Linked DNA regions of Homo sapiens: region 1 is linked to region 2. The links come from fine-mapping of genetic effects on gene expression. A gene starts in region 2. The other region holds a variant in brackets. All regions are shown on one strand. Distances are between the middles of the regions. Region 1 overlaps GRIN2D (glutamate ionotropic receptor NMDA type subunit 2D). Region 2 holds the start of TMEM143 (transmembrane protein 143).

Region 1 (2,896 bases), 31 kb after region 2:
GTCTGTAAGCGCTGCGGCGGCGGAGGGAGGGAGGGGTCTGTCTGTCTGTACCGACCCTGAGCTGCCTGCCTGGGTGTCGTGGGGCTCCCGCTCCTTCCCCCCGGCCCCCCCAAACCCAGATGGATGGTGTGTACCTGGGTTCTGTGCCTCCTGCCTGCGTCCGGCCAGGCGTCTGGGCGTCCCCGGCTGCCTGTGTCCTCCTGTCTGTCCAAACAGCCCCTATCAGCAGTGGCAGCCTGGCCCCCATTAGACCCCCCACTCTGTGTGTGTGTGTCTGTGTGTGTGTCCCTCCTCAAGCTCTGGGGGTGTTGAGGGGGAATCCCAGGGAAGTGAGATCGTGCGTGTGTGCGTGAGTGTATGTGTGTTTCTGCCTGTGTTTGAGAGTGGGGGAGTCAAGGGGGGGTCTAGAGGTGGCCAAGCGAGGAAGGGGCAAGCAGTTCCCCAAGCAGGCAATCTCCCGCTCCTCACACGCACACACCAGCCACTAGCTTCAGAGGTGACCCAGACAGACAGATAGACACAGACGCTGGAAGGGGGGGTGGGGGGGCTGAGGGCACAAAGCGGGGGTGCGAGTGAGCCAGGGAGAGGCGGGACTGGACACATGGAAAGGGGGGAGGAGCCGGGGCTGAAGCGGCAGAGGGGGGCACCCCGGGTGGGCGGAGGGGGGATCCCCACGGGGTCGGGGCGGCAAGAGGACACCCCGACAGCCTCTGCAATGTCCGGGGCCCAACTTCCAGAGCAACATGTGTAGCCACGTCCTCGCCTAGTCCAGGTGGCCGCAACCTTGGGGGAGAGACAGGGCAGGACAGGACCAAGGAAGAGGAAGGAGAGACGGAGCCAGGGACAGACAGGAGGTCCGGGCTGCCGCTGCTGCCGCCACCACCACTGCCGCCGCCCCGGGGCCTGCCCCCCGACATCGGCTCTCTGAGCCCTCCTCGGAATCTTGGGGTCGCTGGACGCCGGGTTCCGGTCCTGGCCCCCCCGCCATCCCCCCAACAGAACAGGGTCATGAAAAGGTAAGGCGGGGACAGGGGATGCAGGGATGGTGGTGGGAATGTGGACCCCCAAATCTAGGACAGAGGAAGTTGGCAAGAAGCCTCGTGGAGGGAGGGGGTTTGAACGGTGGGCAGGGGTCTTGACCCCCACCTAGCTCCCCTGTCCCTCAGGGACTCTCCTCCACCCTCTCTCTCTCCCTCTCTGAGCCCCTTTTTCCTGAGTCCCTACACCTCAGACCTTTCACGCCCCCATTTCTCTGACACTTGGCTCCCTCTCCCCATCCCCACATACCTGATGCCCCATATCCCTGTGCCTCCATCTCTCTATCTCACCTTCTCCCTGTACCCCCCTCCCTGCATCAGTCCCCCCATCGCGAGC[C/T]GGTCCTCTCCCTCTCTCCTCTCGCTCTCCCCTCCCATGTCAGAGCTATGAGTCTGCTATTAATACCCCCGCCAAGGACCTTGAGGGCATCCAGGCCCCCAGCACCCCTCGCCCCAAGCTCCCACCCCTTCCTCAAGGTTCTGGAACACCCTTCCAGCCTCTTCCAAGCATCAGGATTCGGGTGGGGAGAGACCGATGTTGTGTGTGTGTGTTGGGAGGTGAGGGGGGAGGAAACGGGATGCCGTCTGCAGCACAACTCGAGGTTGTGGGGGGAGCTGTTGATCGAAGTGGCCGCTCCTCTCTTCTCTGTTGGATGCTGTGGGGGGCAATGAAGACAGGGACACCCTAGGAATTTCTGGCACCCTCCTCCTCCTCCCCGCTTGGGGACAGGCTGTGCTATGTACAGGATCTAAGTGGGGTGACTAGGGAGGCCAGAGCTCGGTGGGGGGGCACCCAGGATGTTGGGAAGGATAGGGTTTGAAACCAAAAGGGGATCCTTAAGGGAGGACAGGAGCCGGAACCCGGACTCCTGGGTCCTTGGGGGAAGAGGGGAGCTGGGGACCTGGACTCTTGGTTCCTGCAGGGAGAGGAGGCTGGGCACTGGAGTTCCAGAGTCTTGGGGCAGGAGGGGCCTGGCCTCCTGGGTCCTGGGAAAGAACAGGACCGAATGCCCAGACTCCCAAGGCCTGGGGGAGGAAGGGGCTGCCAGAAGGACTCCTGGGTCTTTACGGGAGGAGGTAGGGGATAGCGCTTCCGTCTGAGGAAGGCAGGCTGGGAGCTCAGTCTCCTGAGTCCCTGACAGGGCAGGAGATGAGTGTTGGGGACTTTAGCCCTATGCAGATGGAAGTGGAAACGGAGGCTCATGAGGAGGTAGAGATGGAGGCGGGGGGAGCGGGGGGTTGTCCAGAGGCTGGACTCTGTGATCCCTGAGGGCGTGGGTTCTGGGGGTTGGGCCTTCAGAGTCCTGGAGGACTGGGGATGCCCCTCCTCAGGCCCTGGAGTGGGGGAGGCTGCTCTCCCTAATCCCTGTGGTTAGGAACTGAGCATGCAGCCCCCGTGAGAAGGGTGGGGCCGGGGGCTGCCCTCCTGGGCCTCAGTAGGGAGTGGGACGCGGGGTCCCTAAGAGCAGAAGCCAGGTAGGGGTGGGTCTGGGAGAGGCAGAGGAGGGGCTGGAGGGTGAGCAGCCACTGGGAATGGAGGGGAGCGTGAGTGTTAACCCCGCGGGGGCCAGGCCACAGCTGTGGGTTATTTTGGGGCGGAGTGGGGGGGTTATTCTGAGCGCTGATTGAGCCAGCTGCTTGGGGAAGGGCAATGGAAAGGAGGAGCGAAGAGAAGCCAGGATCGGGGAGGGATGGGCATACTAGGAGCCCCCAACCCCTTCCCTGGGGAGACAGGGGCCCGAGATCTCTGGGAAGGTGAGGTGGTGGGCAGAGGGGACGGGCTGTGGCCTCGAGGCAGGGGAGGGGTGGTGGACCTTTCCCCCGCCCTGGCTGTCTGTGGGGTGGACGAGGCCTGCGCTACC
Region 2 (2,896 bases):
GATGATTCAACAATACATGAAAAATGTCTGGCACAGTGCCATGGAGTCAGAGCTCAAATTGTGTGATAATAATTATGATTACAGCGTTGTGACTTTATAGGTACAATTATTATCAGGTAGTAGAAATAGTAATGATGAGGATGATTACTATACCCATCTTAAAGAGGGAAAAACCATGCCCCAGAGAGTGCCTGTTCAAGCCCTCAGAACAAGCCAGAGTTGGGAATGGATGCTGCGTCTGCATCTCGGAGACCTGGCTCCTGCATTCCAGCTCATCTCCCGCCCACTAGGGAAACACGAAGGGACCCGGGAACTACAACTCCCAGGAGGCGCCAGGGCAGCTCTCTGCAGCAACTAGGGCCCTGCCGCCGCGAAGCCTGCTGGGAGCCGTAGTCCCCAGGCTCTTGGGCCTGGGACAGGCGGTACCTGTATTAGGAGGCGGAGCAGCTGCTCCTTGGAGAAGGGAATGAAGCGCTCGCGGTACTGCTGGGCCCAGTCGCGGGGCTCCCTGGGGTTCCACATCTTGCGATACTCCCCCATTTTGGCTGCCAGCGATGAGAGGGCCCGGGGGGGCCCGAGGAGCGCGGGCAACAGTGGCCATACTCGGACCCTGGACCCCCAGACCCCCCGGGTCACATGCAGCATGGCTAGACCCTTTCCCCGGAGCCTAAACAGAGGAAAATGGGCAGGGGTCAAAGGCCATCTAGAGGAAAAGCGCCCTCTCCACCTCCACGTCCCACCCTCCAGAAGCCGTCTCTACCCCAGGCAGGGCGCAGAGCCCATCCGCTCGCCTCAAAGCCCCTGTTGCCTGTCCCCTTCCCACACTGCTCAGTTGGCCTGGGTCCCAGACAGGGGTCAGAGGTCTTAGGTTCTGGGGCGTTTTTCAGGCCCAGAGACCCTGTAGTGGTACAACGTTTCTTTGGGGTCTAGACAGCGAGGTAGATCTTAGGAGAGCAGGAAATGCTCGTAAAGGTTACCTAGGGGGTGCAGGGCCGCCCTCCCTGGCCATGCAATCCCCCGATTTCTCCCTCACCTTAGCCAAAGCTCGACTGTCATTGAGCCTCCTGCGCATGTGCAGGAGGGCGTCCTGGGCTCCCGAGGTTCGGCTTCACCCAGCAGTAAAACGCATGCGCAAAGCTTCGGTCAATGCGGGCTGTCCATTTCTCACCGCCGACTCCCTACATCAACTACGCATGCGTTGCCTGCCTTTCTCCACCGCCGGCCTCGTTTGGGCGCGACGCATGCGCCGCAGGAGTGTCTCCTTGTCAGCTTGCTACAAAGGGAAGGGGCGGTGTGGACGCGAGACTCCCTAGAGGGATGGGGCGGGGTAGGGCTCCCGCGCGCAGTCCGCCAACGGCGCGCAGTCCAACGTTCGCCGAGGCCACGCCCCGGCTCGTGTCAGCTCCTGAGTAGGCGGAAAGAGGGAGGGGGCGGGACTTGGGCGCAGCCAATCAGCTGTGGAGGAGCGAAAAGGCGGGAAAAAGCGGAACCAAAAGAAGGCTGAGGTGGCGCTAGGGACCAGGAGGGGTGGGGGTGGCGAAAGGAAGGGCGGGCCCTCAGGTGACGCAGATTGGCCCTCCAGAGAAGGGGCGGCCCCTTCTCAGGTGCCGTCACCCCCAAACCTCAGCACTGCCATTCCAGGTCCTTAAAGGGGAGACCGCGATTCTAAGAAGGTAGCCCAGTGCCGGGGCGTGGCCTCATTCTGAGGTTCCCCACAAATCCGAGGTCCCGACTCCCAGCTTGAGGAGGTGCACTTCCGTGAAAATGGAGCTGAATTCGAAAGGGAGGCCCTTATTCTGGGAAATGGCCCCAAGTGACAAGGACAGCCTGAAATATGCCCTGAGATACCTGGGTTCTCCACGAAGGGTGCTGTCACCCCCAAACCTGAAAGGGATTATTCGGTTTCAGACCTCCCAGGGGCTCTGATCTCAATGGCCGCACCCCCTAGTCCCCAGAAAGTCCCACCTGTGTCCTCTCACAGAAGGACCCAGTCCCTCTGCAGGCCCTTCAGCTCCTGGGTCACAAGACGTGGTCCCCAAATATCCCAGCCCTCCCCTGCACTCCACCTCTGGGATCCCTGACAGCCCTCTCGCCCAACAACCCCCTCAGCCCACATTCCTGACTTCTGGAACCTGAAGCAGCCCCTTCACTTATGTCCCCCACTCCTGGGACCCCCAGAATCACCCTCACCCCAGGCCCTCACCTCTCTGGAATCCTCCATAGACCCCCTTAACCCACACCTCAACCCAGGGGACCCTTAGCGACTCTCTCATCCTGCACCTCCACCTCTGTGACCCCTGGCAGCCCTCCCCACACGACACCTTGCCTGGGACCCCTAGTATCCCCATCCTATGCCCCCCTCTCCTGGGACCCCCAGAAAGCTCCCTCACCACACACAACCCCATTCCTGGGAACCCCCAGCACCCGCATCCTATGTCCCCCACTTCAGGGACCCCTAGCAGCCCTCTCCACACAACACCTTTCCTGGGACCCCCCAGAACCCCCATCCTATGCCTCCCACTTCTGGGACCCCTAGTAGCCCCCTCACCACACAACCCCATTCCTGGGACCCCCAGCACCCCCATCCTATGCCCCCCACTCCTGGGGCCCACAGAAGCCCCCTCAGCACACACAACCTCATTCCCTGGGACCCACCTGCACCCCCATCCTACGTCCCCGACTTCTGGGGCCCCTGACAGCCCATTCACCCCACACCCTGACTCCTAAGAGGCTCAGCAGTCCCCTCACCCCACACAACTCCATTCCGGGGACCCCCCCCATCCCCACCCCATGTCCCCCAATCCTGGGGCCCCCAACAGCCCTTCCACCCCGTGCCCCTGACTGGCATCCCCCATCTGTGTCATCCCACAGCAGCCAAGCCCAGGGCTGGCCTGAA

What was found.
Region 1: its variant is fine-mapped to the expression of TMEM143 in sun-exposed skin (GTEx, PIP 0.96).

Annotation. Positions count from the first base shown.
Region 1 is chr19:48,393,921-48,396,816 of GRCh38, forward strand. It overlaps GRIN2D (glutamate ionotropic receptor NMDA type subunit 2D), which reads left to right. Exons shown (of 14, transcript NM_000836.4): 2 at 738-1,016. It also overlaps a transcript of KDELR1 not described here. Among named protein-coding and RNA genes, the nearest start is that of GRIN2D, 1.7 kb to the left of the region's middle. RefSeq lists a silencer at 2,136-2,319. The variant C/T (reference allele first, on the strand shown) is at 1,375.
Region 2 is chr19:48,362,865-48,365,760 of GRCh38, forward strand. It overlaps TMEM143 (transmembrane protein 143), which reads right to left and starts at 1,076. Exons shown (of 8, transcript NM_018273.4): 1 at 1,034-1,076; 2 at 427-667. The coding sequence starts at 1,056. It overlaps SYNGR4 (synaptogyrin 4), which reads left to right and starts at 1,503. Exons shown (of 5, transcript NM_012451.4): 1 at 1,503-1,673; 2 at 2,872-2,896. RefSeq lists enhancers at 628-677, 1,158-1,277, 1,648-1,797.